Linked DNA regions of Homo sapiens. The protein of the gene in region 2 interacts with the protein of the main gene of each other region in a pairwise test. Each region holds a gene or a part of one and is shown on either strand. Other genes may lie near its edges. The genes, in order: LITAF and BASP1.

Region 1 (9,165 bases), on a different chromosome or scaffold from region 2:
CCTTTTAATTTGATATGTAAGTCCATACTTCGAACAGTAAAATGGAATGTCCAATGAACACTTCACACTCCAGGCATCTGACATGAAAGTTCCGCATAAGACATGTTTTTACGATCCTGAAATAGGGCTCTTGTTTTGAAGACTTTGCATATGTAATTAATAATAGCTTGAGATCATGTACATGCCACCATCTGAGCCAAACTGCTAAATATGCATGGCCCCGAAACTACACAATCAAGATCTGGAAAGCAGCAGTTTTTCAAGACTGTAATTTAGGGTTTAAATGACAATTAAGCCACACCAAGATGACATTATTTCCTTGCATCTAGCAAAATGAAGCTGTATCATCAGGTAGCAAAGGACGGGGGAAGGCGGCATCCATATTCCTGACATGTTACAATACCCTCCTTTTAGCATCTCACAAAGCATGTTTTGTTCAGAGAATGAATGGGGACAGTTCTCTTTTGTGCATTTTATTAAAACTTGAAAGCTATGGCTTGCCGCCATCAATGACGCCTATTGGGTTCCAATAGCCTCATGTTCAAATCTGACTCGTTAGCAAATCCACCCAACTCAACATCGGTCATCTTGACATTGCAGGATATTCAGCAAGTCTGAAGTTTTTAATCGGGAAGGATTTTCTACCGTTACTGAACAAATAAAGGTTCTTTGTAGCAATGGCTGGAAATGCAACATGAGCCCTTTCTTCACACCAAAAGAACTCATAAATAGTTCACCGGGTGAACCAAAGACTTTATTTTTCAAAAGCAGGTAACACCAAAGTACTATGTGGTATCCATATTCGTTGCAAAAATGATAATTACTGGAATTTTCCAAACATCAAATGAAGGGGGATCAATGGTTACCACTATCGTTTTCAACCAATATACAGATGTTCGCTCAAGGTCTAGGTTTTATTTCTACATAGTAGTATTCACATGAGTTCCCTATTCTGAAGTATTATCAAAACGAGGACCCTTGAAGGTCGAGCCCAGCTTTGTCTTGACTTCAAAGATGACACAGCAGCCAACCTAGAATCCTGGCTTGCTGCTTGAGTCCTAGAAATCATGTCTTCTCATGTTTTACAACAAGCTGTGTCTCTGAAAACTAAAATCAGACTTTAGATTCCTCTGAAACAGTTCTGGTTCCCAAGCATCCGCACCATGGTACCCAGACATGCTCAAAATGTGCTTTCCCTTATCTTTCAAAACCCACCACCAGGAAACCAAAACGGACCCCACTCTGAGAGTTCCATGATGAAGGTGTTTAAGAATCACATTAACCCCAAGTAAAGGCAGTAGATGAAATTATCCATTTCTTTTTCTTTTTTTTTTTTTTAAGTGAGACTACATTGGCAAATGGGAAAATGACACCAATCATTTGATTACAGAAAATGGTTTTATAAATCCTCCTCTTGAAATTATGTTCAGGCCCAGCATGGTAGCTTATGCCTGCAATCCCAGCACTTCGGGAGGCCAAGGCAGAAGGATCGCTTGAGCCCAGGAGTTCGACACCAGCCTGGGCAACATAGTAAGACCCCATCTCTGTTTTTTTTTAAAAAAAAGAAATTCTGTTCAAAAGTATTTCAGACCAAAAGGAGGTCATAAAAACTGTTCATATAATTACTCTATGAGAAAAAAATCCCTGTATGGAAAGGGGCACTGAAGATCTGGCACAGAGAAACAAGGGGAGACAGGGCAGTGATAAGATCCAGCCCTATTTTTCTAGCATGCATTTACGACCTTGTGGATATGTCTGTACTGGGTGTTAATAGCCCCCTCCTTGTATTTAAAAAAAAAATTAAGAAATTAAAGTGAATCTGTGTGCTAATGAAGTCTGCAGTTACAGAATCTCAAAGCCAAGCCTGTAAAGTCTGTAAGGCAAGATCTTTGTCATCAGGGACGGGAAGAGACGGATAAGATAATGGTAGGCACTAAAGGCTGGTTCAGCCGAGCTCTGGGCAGAACAGCCTCAAAAATAAGGCAACTGTGGCTTCTCAGTTTGAGACTGCCACCAGAAAGGCCCATGGAAGCAGGAAAAAAGAGCCACTGATGGCAGATCACAGGAAGATATTCGGATAGGGCAATGATCACAGTTAGATGGCAGGACTCAGGGTCTCAGGGAGGCAGGAAACCGTGGAACTGACACTCAAGGGGAATGTCTTTGCAAGTCCTATGCACGACTCCAAGCAGCAATTTCTGGGGTTTGGAGATTTGTTAGTTTTGCGACGTATTCCCCCCAAAAGAAGACATGAAGGTGGGCCCCCTGGAGAGGTGAGACCACCAGGGCAGAACCTCCACCAGGCGTGAAGCTGGATGAGAGGTGGAAAGGACTTCCTGCGGCACCCGGCTCCCTCCACGTCTGGCTGAGTCCTACAAACGCTTGTAGGTGCCCAGGAGAGCTCTGCAGTTGGGACAGTAATGGTCCACGTCCTGCAGGGCATCCACGCAGAAGGGGATGAAGCAGCAGCCCGCTATGCACCTGGGAGGAGAGAGAGACACACGGAGCGCGTTACTGATCACAACAGGGTGAACACTGGCTGCCAAAACCATGTTCATGTCCTTCTTTGTAAAAAGGGTCTTTGCCAGTATAATTAGGAATTTTGAGATGGGATCATCTTGGATTATCCAGGCGGACCCCTAAAACCCAATGACCTTAGAAGAAGAGGAGAGGACACACAGAGATACAGAGAGGGCAGAAGGAAATGTGAAGACAGAGGCAGAAGCTGGAGTGATGAGGCCATAAGCCAAGGACACCTGGACCTACTAGAAGCTGGAGGAGGCAAAAAATGATTCTCCCTGAAGCCTTAGGAGGGAGCGTGGCCCTGCTGACATTTTAGTTTTTGGTTTTGTTTTGTTTTGTTTTTGAGATGGAGTCTCGCTCTGTCGCCCAGGGTTCAAGCAATTCTCCCTCCTCCTGGGTTCAAGCAATTCTCCTGCCTCAGCCTCCTGAGTAGCTGGGATTGCAGGCGCATGCCACCAGGCCCAGCTAATTTTTTTATTATTAGGAGAGTTGGGGTTTCACCGTGTTGGCCAGGCTGGTCTCAAACTCCTGACCTCAAGTGATCCACCCGCCTTGGCCTCCCCAAGTGCTGGGATTACAGGCGAGAGCCACCACACCCGGCCCCTGCTGACATTTTGATTTTGCACTTCTGGCCTCTAGAATTGTGAGAGTTAATATCTGTTGTTTTAAACACTAGGTGTGTTGTAATTTGTGATGACACCCCTAGGAAATTAACATGCCAGCCAATGCCAAGGCTCCTCCTACAGACAGAGCCCCTTTGAGTATTATTTTCAAATCTGGGGTCATTTGGGAGTCTTTCAAAGTCTTAGATGGGCTTGGTGAACTTTTTTTGCAAAGGGACAGATAGTAGATCTTTTAGTCTTTTTGTTGCTGTGTTTTGTTTGTTTTTGTAGAGATGGGGTCTTGCTATGTTGCACAGGCTGGTCTTGAACTGCTGGCCTCAAGTGATCCTTCCACCTCCGCCTCCCAAATTGCTGGGATTACAGGTGGAAGCCACCACACACCCGGCCACATACTTTCATCCTGATGAGCCATGGCGTCTCTGTTGCAACTGCTCAACTCTGCCCTTGGAATGAGAAGACAGCCACAGAGAATCCAAAAACCAACAGGCGTGGCTGTGTTCCCGTAAAACTTAAAACAGGCGCCTGGCTCCAGGGTCGTTTTGCCAACCCCCGTCTTACTGATCTCTTTTCCATATAGACAGGCTGCTTCTTACAGCAACCAAGTAGAGTTCCCCAAATAATGCCTCTTAACCTACATAATCCACCTTTGGCACACACAGGCAGGAACCTCAGACCGCCTGACAACCAATGTTTGCCAAAAATGGAGTTAAAACTCAACCCTTCACAGGAAGACGCTGGTTTACATAAAGCAGAATTTGGAAATATTCTGATGAGGAAATTATCTCATGAAAGAAATTTCCTCCTATTGCCTAAGCTTTCCAGAGCTCAAATAAGGGCAGTCAATCCATTCAGCAGGAATCCTAACCTATGGCTTACAGGTGCAGGCACGGCTCCAGGCAGCACACACACATATTTCATCCTCAGCAGGCCCTGAGGTGGGCGTTATTGCCCCGCACCCCCGTCTACAGATGGGGAAACTGAAGCACAGAGAGGTAAAGTCACTTGCCCATGGCCACACAGCTAGTGAGAGGCAGGATTTGAACCCACTCTACCATGTTTAAGGAAGGAACAAAGGGAGGGAAAGAAAGGTTGCCTCAATTTCTAAAGCCAGACTGGCAGAGGCCAATACTCAATGTAAGTTTCTATTCCTCTATAATCCCAGCACTTTGGGAGGTCAAGGCAGAAGGACTGCTTGAGTCCAGGAGTTCAAGACCAGCCTGGGCAACATAGTAAAACCCCTGCTTCCACACACACAAAAAAAAAATTTAAAAATTAGCTAGGTATGGTGGCACACACCTGTGGTCCCAGGTACTCAGGAGGCTGAGCTGGGCGGATTGCAGGAGCCCAGGAGATCAAAGCTGCGGAGAGCTACGATCGTACCACTGCACTCCTGCCTGGACAACAGAGCAAGACTCAGCCTCAAACAAAACAAAACAAGTTTCTATTCCATCTTTCCCTGATTCCAAAGATAAAAAATTTGTTTTAATACAAATATCCAGAGGCAATGGACTTTTTTTTTTTTTAAGCATTTTCTGCCCACAGAATGAAAACAACAGCAGAGTCCTGTGGGCAAGAGGGGGAATCAGGTGCCCAGAAAGCTGTTTTGTCTCCTTCCTTCCTTATTTAACACATGACCTCAAGGAAGTTAACTAAACTCTCTGGGACTCTGAGCCTCTTATTGAAGTTAGGAAGAGAAATATTGTTCCTTCTCAACCTCAAGTCACCAAAGGACAATGTGGAGGAACGTGCCGGTTGCATGAGGCTCCTGAAACTCACAAACACCGTTTCCTTCAAGGAAAAGAATGGAGCCCCTTGGGGTTTTCTGAGTGGCTCACGTGGCCAGGTATAAGGAAGCTACTTTTACCTGCTTGGTGGGAAACAAAAAATTGATTGTGTTTCCTCAGATTTTTCTCCCAGAACAGAAACTGTTATCTCTTTAAACATAATACCTTTGGTGCAGACATAAAATTTATATAATTTCCCTGCATGGGCAATGGGAAAAATACTTCGGGTCATAAAAGGATAAGAAGTTTTGAAGCAATTCCTATGAAGAATTTTAATGTACAGATTCTTTAAAGCTTCCCTCGGGCTCGAGCAAAACATTATTATTTAGGTCATGAAATTCTAGAAGAAAAAGGAATCCCTGAGGATATTGCCCTGTACACAGCTGGAAGCAGCTGTGAAGCTTGTCCCTACATGCAGGGCGTGGTTTCAGCAGATAAGCAAGAAGAAAAGACGGAAGACCAATTTCTGGGGACGGATACGCTTAAGAGCAGCAGGGATGACTTGGCCTCCCAGGGGGCATTTTTGTTCAGAACACTGGGGAGCGTGGTGCTCCTAGCATTAAGCGGGTGGGGGCCAGGGATGCTATTCAATATCCTACAATGCACAGGACACCCCCTACAATAAAGAAATGTCTTGGGCCAGGCATGATGGCCCACACCTGTAATCCCAGCACTTTGGGAGGCTGAGGCGGGTGGACCACCTGAGGTCAGGAGTTCGAGACCAGCCTGGCCAACATGGTGAGACCCTATCTCTACTAAAAGTACAAAATATTAGCCGGGCCTGACGGTGCACACCTGTAATCCCAGCTACTCAGGAGGCTGAGGCAGGAGAATAGCTTGAACCTGGGAGGCGGAGGTTGCAGTGAGCCGGGATCGTGCTACTGCACTCCAGCCTGGGCAACAGAGTGAGAATCCATCACAAAAAAAGAAAGAAATGCCTTAGGCCAGGCACAGTGGCTCACACCTGTAACCCCAGCAGTTTGGGAGGCCAAGGTGGGCAGATCACCTGAGGTCAGGAGTTTGAGACCAGCCTGGCCAAGATGGTGAAATGCCAGCTCTACTAAAAATAAGCTGGGCGTGGTTGTGCACCCCTATAATCCCAGCTACACGGGACGCTAAGGCAGGAGAATCGTTTGAACCTGAGCAGTGGGGGTTACAGTGAGCCGAGATCGCCCCACTGTACTCCAGCCTGGGCGACAGAACCAGATTCCATCTCAAAAAAAAACAACACAAATGTCTGGCCCTGAATGTCAAGCATGGTGCAGTTGAGAACCCACCCCCGCCAGCACCCAGAGAGAAGGGCAGGATGGCTTGGGGCCAAGTGGGAGGCAGACTCACCCCAGCAGGCACAGGCTCCCGCAGGACAGCCAGGTCAGAGCACCGGCGTTATAGGACAGCTGACTCACGATCATCTTGTTGCAGGAAGGACAACACATTTGGATAGGGCGGTCCAAAAAGGTGATGGGGTGCTGCACGTAGACCGTCTGCACGGTAACTGATGAAAGGGAGAGGGACAAACACAGGTTGCTCAGGAAACAAGGCCAATAGCATTCACTACAGGACAAAGAGAGGAACGCAGGGATGCCAGCAAATATTATATTTGTACATTTGTGTTCATAGCATGCGTTCATCGTCTGGCTATCTATGAGAGCCAAAAGGGGAAGGAACACCAGTGTCCATCGACGGACCAATAAACTAACACAGCGAAGTTTATCCATCCACCAGAATATGATTCAGCCTCAAAAAGAAAGGAGGACCGGGCGCGGTAGCTCATGCCTGTAATCCCAACACTTTGGGAGGCCGAGGTGGGAGGACTGCTTGAGCCTAGGAGTTTGAGATCAGCCTAGGCAACATGACAAGACCTCATCTCTACAAAAAAATATAAAAATTAGCCCAGCGTGGGAGTACACGCCTGTAGTCCCAGCTACTCAGGAGGCTGAGGTGGGAGGATCAGTTGAGTCTGAGAGATTGAGGATGCAGTGAATCATGATTGCGCCACTGCTCTCCAGCCTGGACAACAGAGCGACGCTCAGTCCCAAAAACAAATAAATAAATTTTAACCAGCCTCACACTGTGCCTAGCAGCTCTTGATAAATAATCCACTCTCTTTACACAAACCCTTTGATAAACTCTGACAGCCAATGATAAGGGTAGAGTTTACCAAGCCAGGAAACGCAGGCCAACTCTGTAAGACAACAAGCTAGTGAACTGTGTTGATACAAGAAATGAAAATATAAAATAATGCTAGGAAGAAAAAGCTATGTGAAAACATGTTCGAACATTCTCAAGAATCAGAAGAGAATCCAGGCCGGGCACGGTGGCTCACACCTGTAATCCCAGCAAATCCCTTGGCTTTGGGAGGCCGAGGTGCGTGGATCACCAGAGGTCAGGAGTTCAAGACCAGCCTGGCCAACATGGTGAAACCCTGTTTCTAAAGACAAAAATTAGCCGGGCATGATGGCACGTGCCTGTAGTCCCAGCTACTTGGGAGGCTGAGGCAGGAGAATTGCTTGAACTTGGGAGGCAGAGGTTGCAGTGAGCCGAGATTATGCCACTGCACTCCAGCCTGGGCAACAGAACAAGACTCTACCTCAAAAAAAAAAAAAAAAAAAAAAAGAGAGAACCCAGGGTGATGAAAATCATCAAGCACTTCAGTTGTTAAGCTCATATTTTTGTTAAAGCAACTTCCTTCTGTTCCTTTTTACGTTAGAATGTCATTTATATAACAAATGAATTAGGGGGAAATTACTGCCTAGAGTTAACTGAACTTAGTAATACTCATAGAAAGACCCTCCTTCCAGAAAAGTAGTATTAAATCATACTTTAGCACTTACGTGTAATTTTTTTTTGGCAGGGGGGACAAGGTCTTGTTGTGTTGCCCAGGCTGGAGTGCAGGGGTACAATCATAGCTCACTGCAGCCTCAACCTCCTGGGCTTAAGCAATCCTCCCACCTCAGCCTCCCAAGTAGCTGGGACTACAGGTACAAGCCATCACACTCAGCTAATTTTATTTTCATAGAGACAATGTCTCACTATGTCACTCAGGCTGGTTTGGAACTCCTGGCCTCAGGTGATCCTCCTGCCTCAGCCTCCTCAGTAGCTAGGATTACAGGCGCAAGCCACCACACCCTGTTCATACATTTTATTAAGTGTTTTTGGGGTTCAAGAATAAGTTATTTGGACCAGGCTCTGTGACTCATGCTGATAATTCTAACACTTTGGGAGGCCAAGGGAGGTGGGAAGATCGTTTGAGCTCAGGAGTTAAAGATCAGCCTGGAAAAACAGTGAGACCCGATTTACACAAAAATTTAAAAATTAGCCAGGTGTGGTGCTGTATGCCTGTAGTCTCAGCTATTCCAGAGACTGAAGTGGGAGGATCACTTGAGCCCAGGAGGTCCAGGCTATAGCGAGCCATGACTGCACCACTGCACTCCAACCTGGGCAACATGGTGAGACCCTGTCTCAAAAAAAAAAAAAAAGAAAAAGAAAAAGAAACTATTTATTGATCACAGGATGGTCTAAGAATCTAAAGTCATTATCTCATCCTCTTCCAGCTCAAAATAACTTGAACACAACAATAAGAGTTCACTTTTATCAAACGAGTACTCTGTATTTGGCACACACAACTTCCTCTCATGTTAACAACTCACTGATATTTATAAATAGGTACTTGATGAAACCTATTTTACAAATGGGGAAGCTGAGGCACAAGGAGGTTATGTGAACCCAGGCAGTCTGATTCACGGGCCCCCTCTCTGAGCTAAAGATTTCTTTCAGAACTACCTGTGATACTAAAGCAGTGACATACCAGGGCACCCTTGGGCGGAAGGAAGCACCAAAGGACAGGGACCATCTAGTTGCTCAAAAGCAGAAGAGCAACTTGCATTGAGGGTGAGCTGGTATGAAAACACAATCACACATTGCTCAGGACGGTTTCTTCTCCTCCCTATTCCTACCTCGGCCCTGGCCTCAGGGCAGAAGTTCTGCATCAGACCTCAGGAGGAAGTGTGCGGGCCCTTAAGACACAAACTCCCATTCTCAGAAGAAAGTTGGTTGTGCCTCCAAGAGATGTGCCAAAAGATTCGTATATGATGACCATGGGAAAGATCCTAAACCATACTTTATTACGGAAAAGCTGTGAGCCTCACCAACATGGAATCTAAAAGACTGCGTGTGGAATTTCAAGGTAAGGGGGTAAAACTGGAACGTACTGGCACTTCACTTAGACTCTTTGG
Region 2 (9,070 bases):
TGAGTACCAGTTAAAGAACAGAAATGCCACTGTCATTGTTGGTGCTTTTTATCAAAAGGCTCAATTTCTCTATCTGCTAAAGCTTGGCAAAAAGCTAGCTGGCTAAAAGAATAAGCGAACTGATAGAAATATTTTAATTCTGTAATAATTTTTAAAAATCGATTTAAATATTATCTCACTCAAAAACCTAAGATTTACTGAATTGGGGACATGCTGGTATATATTTGCTATTGAATTTGTTCTATATTCCAACATACCCCTCGCCAAAAACACAACCTAAAGGAAAAGAAAAAAGAAAGAACGTAGCTCTCTAAATCATAATAACCTACTCAATACTAAGGAGTACAGAGGGTACAATCCATGCCACCTAGAAGACAGCTAGACAGCCACCGTAGCCAGTAGATGGGCCCTGATATATTAAACGTGGTCAATATCAAGTTCTCATCAAAAAGGACAAAAGAGATGATTTCCATTGCTGCCACGCGTTATTCCACCAGGATGTACTGACAGTACTTAAGCATAAAACCCTATTAAACATAACCTACCACTGCAAAAAATATCATATTTGGCTCCTATTTAATATACACAATAAGTCCCTTTTTGTGTGGTAAAAACAAACTACCTGAAAATAAATCTAAATGGCCATAACCTGGAAAATAGATCATCTGAAAGAAAATCAGCCATCAAAGGTATATCATGGCTTCTGTTAGGTAATGGGGAAAAAGGAATCATTGCGAACCTAATCAACCAGCTTCACCCCAACGACTGCCTTCTTTCTGCCCCCATCAGATTTCCATCTGGACGCCATTCGCCTTTTGGAATCCTTAATGAAACAATGAGTTCGGAGTCCAGAGAAAACAGAAAGGGTTAGGATCCCGACAAGGTAATCGTTTTCTTCTCTCCGGTTTTTGTAGGCCATCTTGTTCGAATAAACGCCAAGATGTCTTAATTTTCCCCAGGTGGTGTCACTGGAGGCAACGCCCACTGACAGTTTTGAGGCCACCTTCCCTTAATCAAATGACCAAAAAAGATCTGTCAAACGGTTAATTGATGCAAATTAAGAAAGCCACCCTCACTGCAGTAAGATATGTTACAGGAAAAAGAACAATGAACAGTACTAGAAAGGAAAATAACAGTGTGCGGGTACAAAATATTTAATCCACAATTTGCCTTCATCCTCATCAAGGCAAATCTTAATTTTGGTCAATTGAAATCAGCAAGAAAGCAAAAGATGAGAGACAGCCTGGAAAAGAAGAAACACACACACAGGCGGGAAAAACTGTCATTGGTGTCCAAGGGTTTCCCGCAACATTTAGGGCAAACGCCTTTGTTCCTCGGCTCGGGAGGGGAGTGGGTGGCTGGATGATGGAGATGGGATGGGGCTGCCGGGCCCTCCACACCCTGCTCTCCGGCGCATGCGCGAGGCCAAGACAAAGGAATAGGTAATTACAGTCCCGATTCATTCATTTTGCCTGCAGTATACTGGGGGTCTGTTGGCCCGGGCTGTAATCCCGGGAGGTGGGGGTGGGGGGTCGGTCCACAACCCTATAGCAGAAGGCCATTTCGACGCTAGTGTTGGGTTTTAGCCCGCCCCACAGTGCGAGTGGCCGCGGGGGAGACAGAGGTGTTGTCAACCTGTACAAGGTCCTAAAAAATGCACCCATGTGTGCTGTGCTAATTTCAGCAGAGTGAGAATTACATGGGCAAGGGCTGTCCACCGAGTTCGTTTCAAGGCGGAAATGTCTCTGGGGACGCAGATAAGGAGCCTGGCCAAGCGTTCGATGAATATTCATGAAAAGAATGCGGTTTGCAGCCGCGCATTGTGCGTGCGATCGGATCCAGGATTCCGCAATTTTTATTTTTCTGGAAATGGAGGGGGGACGGGGGCGGGGGGAGCAGGAACCGGGCGCCGGGTTTCAGCTTTAGCGCTTTGGGCAAAAGCTGCTCAACCCCAACCCTACGCTCCCAGCGGGGCTGAGCCCAGTTAGGGCCGCGCGCTGTCAGGTTCAAGCCCACACCCCCCGGGCCCGGGCCGGGGCCGGGACCCAGGGCGGAGGCGCCTGGCGCATTCTTGGAACCAAAGGCTCGAAAAAACAAACTGCTCCGAGGCAGCCCACGGGTTCGTAGGAAGGCAATTCCGCCACTGACGAGGCTGGGGCTCCGATCTGCTCGGGAGGTGCTTCTGAGTGCACGTCGCCGTGTGAACCTCGTATTCCTTGGCCCCAGAACCAAGATCCAGGAGTCCCATGGGTCGAGAAAACCCGTTTGCCAAAGCAAAAAGCCACCCACTTCCTTCTGATCGGGCCAGATTCCCCATCTTCTTTCTCCCCGGACTCCCGCCCCACCCCACCCCCACCCTCCATCTTTGGCTGCTGCGCCCCTCGCCCCGAGCGCTTTCTCCCAGGCTGGTAAGGGCTCCGATGACGGAAGCGCTCCCTTCAGCCCACAGAACCGTCTCCCCGGGACTCAACGCACTGAGGGGGTTTCGCATTCGGCAATTCCTCCCGTCACCCGCAGCTCCTCTCCCCGACAGCCCCCTCCCCCCAGCTCCGTTTACCAACCTCGCCGCCCCCCTCACCCCTCCACCATGCGAGCGGCTGAAGCCTCCCACTTCTGGGCCCCCCATCACCCGGGATCCCCGAAGTGCGACGGAGCCCTCACAGAGGGACCCCAGGCCCTTGCCGTCCAATCCGGGCCCACATCCCTGCTGCCCGCTGCATGAAGGGAGAGCCCGGGGGCTGCGGGGCGGGGCGCGGCGCGGTGGGGGACGGAGGCCCCCGGGTCCGCGGCGGCGCGGGGCCACCGGGCGCGCCTCCTTACCGGCTCTGGGTGCCTATGCAGCCCCTGAGTTAGCGCGGTGCCGCCGAGAGGCCGGGGTCGCTGGCGTCGTCTGGCTGGTGCCTGGCCGCTGGCGGAGGCTCTCTCCCGGCTCGACGGCGGAGCCCGGAGCGAGGAGCCAGTTGGAGCGCTGCCGCCGCCGTCGTCGCCGCTGCCGCTACTGCCGCCGCCGCCGCCGCTGCAGCCTCTGCATTTCTCGCGCTCGCTCCCCCTCCCCTTCCTGCCCAGTGCCCTCCCCCCGCGCGTCCGCCCGCCCAGCCTCCCTCCTCCCGCGCTCCCCGCCCGCCTCTCTCCCCTCCCTCCAGCCCGGCGCCCCGCCCGTCTCCCCTCCACCCCCTCCAGCTCCATCTCCCCACCCCCTGCACTCCCTCTGCTCCCCTCCCCTCCTCCGGCGCAGACCCTCCCCTCTCCCCTCCAGCCTGGACACGCCCGCCTCCCCTTGACTCCCCCCAGCTCTGGGCCCCCACCTCCCCTCCCCTCCAGCACAGTCACCCCCATTTCTCTCCTATCCGCCATCCTGGTTCCTCCCTTCCCCCCACCTCCCAACTCTGTGCCCCGCCAACGTTTCCTAAATGCCCTCTATTCAGATCCCCCCTCCGCCTCCCCTCTCCTCTCCTCCATTCCTGCGTCCCCCTTCCCCCGCCGCGCCGCCTGGGCTGTCCGTGGACTTCTCCCACTCTCTCACTCTCTCACTCACTCTCTCTCTCTCTCTCTCTCTCTCACTCTCTCTCTCTCTCTCCCCCTCATTTATTTGGAACCGTTGGATAAGAAGTGCTCGGGCTCTCGCTCAGACTTAGGGAGCTGCCTCGAGGTGATGAATGACACCCCCTGGCACCAGCTACCCTTCTCAGACCCCAGTCCAGCCCGCTCCCGACGTCGACTACGATTCCGCTACCTCGGCTGGCAGCGAGGTTGGGGTGAGCCCCAGCTGCAGGCGCGTCTGGGCTGCGCCGCTGCAAACGAGTTGCGCACCTTGGGCGGCTCCGCACCTGCACCCGCACCCGCGGGGCTCAGCCCCGAAGGCTGCAGCTTCGGGGGAGGCGCGGTCGCCGAGGTCCAGCTGGTGGGGCGAGAGACGTCGCCCCTCGGAGGATGCTCTCGGAACTTGGGAGAGGAAGGAGGGAAGAGAAGAGGGGAAAGGGGCCGTCGATGTTTTTGATGTCTGTGCTTTAATGGAGGCCACCAATATTGAGAAGACGGGGTTGGCCGAGGCAGCCCGCACGCTGCTGCTTGCGAGCGCTCGAGTCAAAGCTAGGGCCAACCGCGGCTTGTCCGGGTGCCCTAAGGGGGCGGACACTTGGTTTAGCACCGGGACACAGAATAGCCACCGGGGTAGGAAGATGCGTTCACTTTGCTTACCTGTTGGCAAGAGGGACATACAAAAATAACGTAACGTGACATCGTTGACAACGGTAGCTCTTTGATTACACAAAAGCCAATTTTACCTTCCCGCAAAAGCCAGTTGACGCCTTTGGAACTTTTATTTGCGGCATTTTGGCGCCCTCTGGCTGTGTTTGGATCGCTTTCATGCTCGCCTGCGTCCCAGCCAAGAAAAAATCGATGGAGCTGCAGGTTGTCCTCAGGATGGTTCTGCCCTCAGGACCTGGGCGTGAATTCAGGGACAGGGTGGCCCTCCAGAACCGGAGTGACAAACTGTAACCATACTTAGGGAGGCAGACGTCAAAGGCAAGTACATCTGTATTCAACTGGGTAAAGGTAAGTGCATTTTCACTTAACAGGAAAATTAACTTATCGTAACTTTAACGTACATATTTGAATTAAGCAAAGTGGCAATATTTACTCAACTGCACTAGCGATTTTGCAGTGGAAACACTTGACGACCCTACTGTACACATTTACAGGTCATAGGAGGCAGCACCAAATTAGATTAATGCATGCCAGCTGGAAATGTTCAAATTTAAACCAAAGGTAAGAAAAAAGCGGGAACTGTTTGTTTTTTCCTGTTTCTCTTTCTGCCATTTAAAGTGAAATAAAAAGTTAGTGTAGTAAAATACCAGGGAAGCAAATTACAAATGAGGTTGCTTCTAAAGCATTTTATTCTTTTGAATATTTATTTCCCTCACACCAGTACACCATCTATAAAGCTAAATGGAGGATGCAGGTTTTCCCACCTCCTTTTGGGGCCAGATATTTCTTTGTTGTGGAAGGCTGTCCTATGCACTGTAGGATGTCTGGCATTCATTGCTGGCCTCTACTAGCAGCCAGTACCACCCTCCACACACACCACCAGCACCAGCACCAGTTGTGACAACCAAAAATGTCCCCAGATATCGCCAAATGTCTCCTGGGAGGCAAAATCACTCCAGGCTGAAAACCACTGAGCTACATTTTCTTTCAACCTCTATGAGCAAGTCTCTAGGTTTTTACCCTATCGAATTAGATGAATATTTGCAATGTTCTGCTCAAGACATTTCCTGAGTTTGTTAGAGGAGCTGCCTACTTGTTCATTTAGCATTCAGGGTTTTTATCCTTGTGATCTTCCAGGCATGTAAATCATCTAAAAATTAGCAAATACATTTCCTCATTGTATTTGCAGTCTAAGCCTGTGGGTGTTATCTTCCTTCTCTATTCTCTTTTTCCAATTTTTCCAAAAAAAAAAGACAACATAAAAATTAATGTTCAGTACCTTCAGTGCTTCCAGCTAAATTTTCATGATGGAGAAAACAAACCTTTCAAAGGTGTGATTGGAATACAGATCACGGGTTACCATAGAAACCGGAGGCAAAAGCTTACACCAACAAGGAGAACTGCAGGTCTCCTTAATTTTGTCTTCCATCAGATTTAGTTGTTCTCTTAAAACATTTTTTTAAATTTTTTTAAAGGAGGGTGAGAATTCATTTTCAATGAGATAATGATGCAACTGACTGATAGTGCTATTAATCTTTAGAAGCTTTTACAGAATTTGTAGGTTTGCAGCAAATGGTTGCCAAAATGTTACCTCTCAATGTAACAATATTACTATATAAAATCCAATTTGGCGATGTTTTTAGTCTAATTTTTAGTTGTTCATCTAATATCATACTTTTTAATGTGTATGCTCTTTAAAACATTTTTTTAAACTGATGCTTAGGGAATAAATGAATAAACCTTTAAAGTTCTGAATTTTAGAAAACTGTTAACATTAACTATTGTGAATGTGTCTGTTTACATTATAGACTAATGATCTTGAGAACAAATATTAAGGGTGTAATTTATGATAAATTTAATTAGCTTTCACCATTATGCTCATGAAAAAAAGACTGTTTTACTCTCCAAATGGAATGAATGCATTTGTTTTTGACAAACAAAGCTGGATTTCATCGGTTATAAACTGAATTCCATTGTCATTTTTAATTGCCTGCATAACTTGCTCCAGGGAAGCATAACCTGCATTATGAAAATCATTATCCAAAAGATAAATTATTCGTGATTACTAATTTTTTTCTAAAAGATTTGTCTTTGCTTGCAATATAATGGTCTCATTGTCATTTAAATTACTAGTCAGTTTACAAAAATTTCCATGTGCCTTCAGCTTTTCAAATCATATCTATTGTGTCAACTAAGACACCTACAATAGATAATTATACAGACCTCATCAAGCCTCAAAACCTCACTCTTATCTTCCCTCTCCCCACCTCCCACATCACCCACCAAGGCCTAGCGTCTTTCTCAGTTCCCCATCCTTTCCTCTTAAATAGTAAAAAGAGGATTAAAATCTCAAATAAAAGATGTAGAACAAGAATGAAGCAGAAGCATGGTGACAGTAGTGTCACCCGAGTGTGACTCTAGCCACCTTTGCTTGACATCTTTCTGGATAGTTCCTGTTCAAGGCCACTGCATTAACCCAAACCCTCAGAAACCCATTTAGAGAATTTGAAAGTAAATTCAGCTCTACTGGTAAGTTTTCCGTGGAGGACCAACTTGCTGCAATTTGTTTACAAAATCTTATCTGCAAATTGCAAGCAAAAGGCCAGACAGTATTACAGATGAAAGTGTACGGCTTTTTTTCTCTTAAATATATTTATAATTTTTTAACCAAAGGAAAATATTGAAATCTATATATTCGTCTGTCTTCCTTCCTACCCCAACCCTACCCAACCCCACGAGAGTCATTCTGGGCCAAAATGTCAATAATGGCAAGGTTGAGAAACCCAGGTTTAAATGAGCATCAAGTTGCTGCCCAGTTGGAAAATACCTGATCTTTTTTTTTTTTTTTTTTCTAAGAGCGCATGCTGCAGAGGGAAGCTGCCTCTTCCTGTGGCTTAAGGTATCTTCAGCAGGGCAAAAGGCTTGGAGGCACAAAATTTAATGGAGAAATTTTAACAAGGGCCTGCAATGCACAATGTGCGCTAAGCCCTTCATTAACCACCATTCTCCACTATAACACAAATTGAGGCAATAGTTTCAAGAGGTATGTCAAAGATTAAAAGCAATGATTTTGAATTGCATTCCCTGTTACTGCACACCAAGTAACTGGAAGAAAATGACTTAACCTTGCTTCCCTATTTAATTTCCTCTTCATGTACTGTAAAAGGAGAGCTGGGAAACCTGAGCAAACATTTGTTTACTACGAAGCATCGGAGTTGAAATGGAGGGGACAGCCTGGCCTTGGTGCTACATTAGGAACATTTGCCCAAGATGAGAGGCAGATAAAAACAAGCCTGTCTACCTGAATAGCTCTCATTCCCAACCCCGTTCTCCCTTTCATAGACTGTAATTCTGCCACCTATCCTTTCAGTCCCAAAGTACATTTCTAGTCACCAGCATTTTCTTTTTTTTTTTTTTTTTTTTTTTTTGGACACAGAGTCTCACTCTGTTGCCGAGGCTGGAGTGCAGTGGTGCGATCTTGGCTCACTGCAACCTCCCAGGTTCAAGAGATTCTCATGCCTCAGCCTCCCAAGTAGCTGGGACTACAGGCGCATGCTACCATACCCAGCTAATTTTTTTTTTTTTTAAGTAGAGATGGGGTTTCACCGTGTTAGCCAGGATGGTCTCGACCTCCTGACCTCGTGATCCGCCCGCCTCGGCCTCCCAAAGTGCTGGGATTACAGGCGTGAGCCACCGCGCCCGGCCCAGCATTTTCTATTAAGAAAATACATAAAATTGTCAGAGGCATTTAAACCCTTGCAACTCCATCTTGAATAGGGGCTGGGCAAAGTAAGGCTGAGACCTACTGGGCTGCGTTCCCAGGAGATTAAGCATTCCAAGTCACAGGATAAGATACAGCAAGGTCTTGGAGACCTTGCTGATAAAACAGGTTGTGGTATAGAAGCTGGCCAAAGCCCACCAAAACCAAGATGACAACGAAAGTGACCTCTGATTGTCCTCATTGCTCCCACCAGTGCCATGACCGTTTACAAATGCCATGGCAACATCAGGAAGTTACCCTATATGGTCAAAAAAGGGGAAAAACCCTCAGTTCTGGGACTTGCCCACATTTTTCCCAGAAAAGTCATGAATAATCCACCTCTTGTTTTAAAAATATGATCAAAAAATAACTATAAGTATCCTCAGCCAAGTAGCCCATGCCGCTGCTCTGCCTACGGAGTACTCATCTTTATTTCTTTACTTTCTTAATAAACTTGCTTTCAATGTACTATATGGACTCACCCTGAATTCTTTCTTGCATGAGATCCAAGAATCCTCCCTTGGGGTCTGGATTGGGACCCTTTCCTGTAACAAACCAATGGTAAAAAGGTGATAGCCTCCTAAGCAGCGAGGGCTTTTTCCATGCAGTGCCTACCTGTTCCTACAGACACCAGGGAGGGGATTATGGCATAGCAAGCTCAGTCTTGGGAAAACAGTCCTCGATTCCTTGGCTACCCTTCCCCCATTGTCACCCGTTAAACCAGTCAGAGAACAAGTTACCTTAAAATGGCACAAAGAATGTTGTAGAACAATTAATCACATGGCTCCACCTTTGAATAATGGAGACTGTAGAGGTCCTAGTGTTAAATAGTGTGTGCTGCGTCCACTCCTCAGCACCACCTGCTTCTACTCTCAGATCAGCCCTTACCATAATTAGAATATTTCTACTTTAACTTCAGTGCAAGGAATGGTGCCCGAAATAAATTGGTAAGTGCAAAAGCAAATTGCTAACCAGAATGCAAAGGATGCACATTTTTACTATAAGTAAATACATTAAGGGATGCTGCTTTGCCTACTTCTCTAAAGTGCAAATACGGACCAAATTCCAGTGTCTACCTAACTCTGCTTTTTGATAAACTCCCTA

Evidence for each region.
Region 1: the proteins of BASP1 (region 2) and LITAF interact in binary tests that used the Homo sapiens proteins (3 or more experiments, as listed by UniProt).

What each region holds. Positions count from the first base shown.
Region 1 is NC_000016.10:11,547,265-11,556,429, forward strand, and holds the end of LITAF (lipopolysaccharide-induced tumor necrosis factor-alpha factor), read right to left. Parts: intron 6,426-9,165; coding exon 6,269-6,425; intron 4,541-6,268; coding exon of another isoform or gene 4,459-4,540; exon of another isoform or gene 4,443-4,458; intron 2,482-4,442; coding exon 2,373-2,481; 3' UTR 458-2,372; downstream 1-457.
Region 2 is NC_000005.10:17,211,561-17,220,630, reverse strand, and holds the start of BASP1 (brain acid soluble protein 1), read right to left. Parts: upstream 3,001-9,070; 5' UTR 2,821-3,000; intron 1-2,820.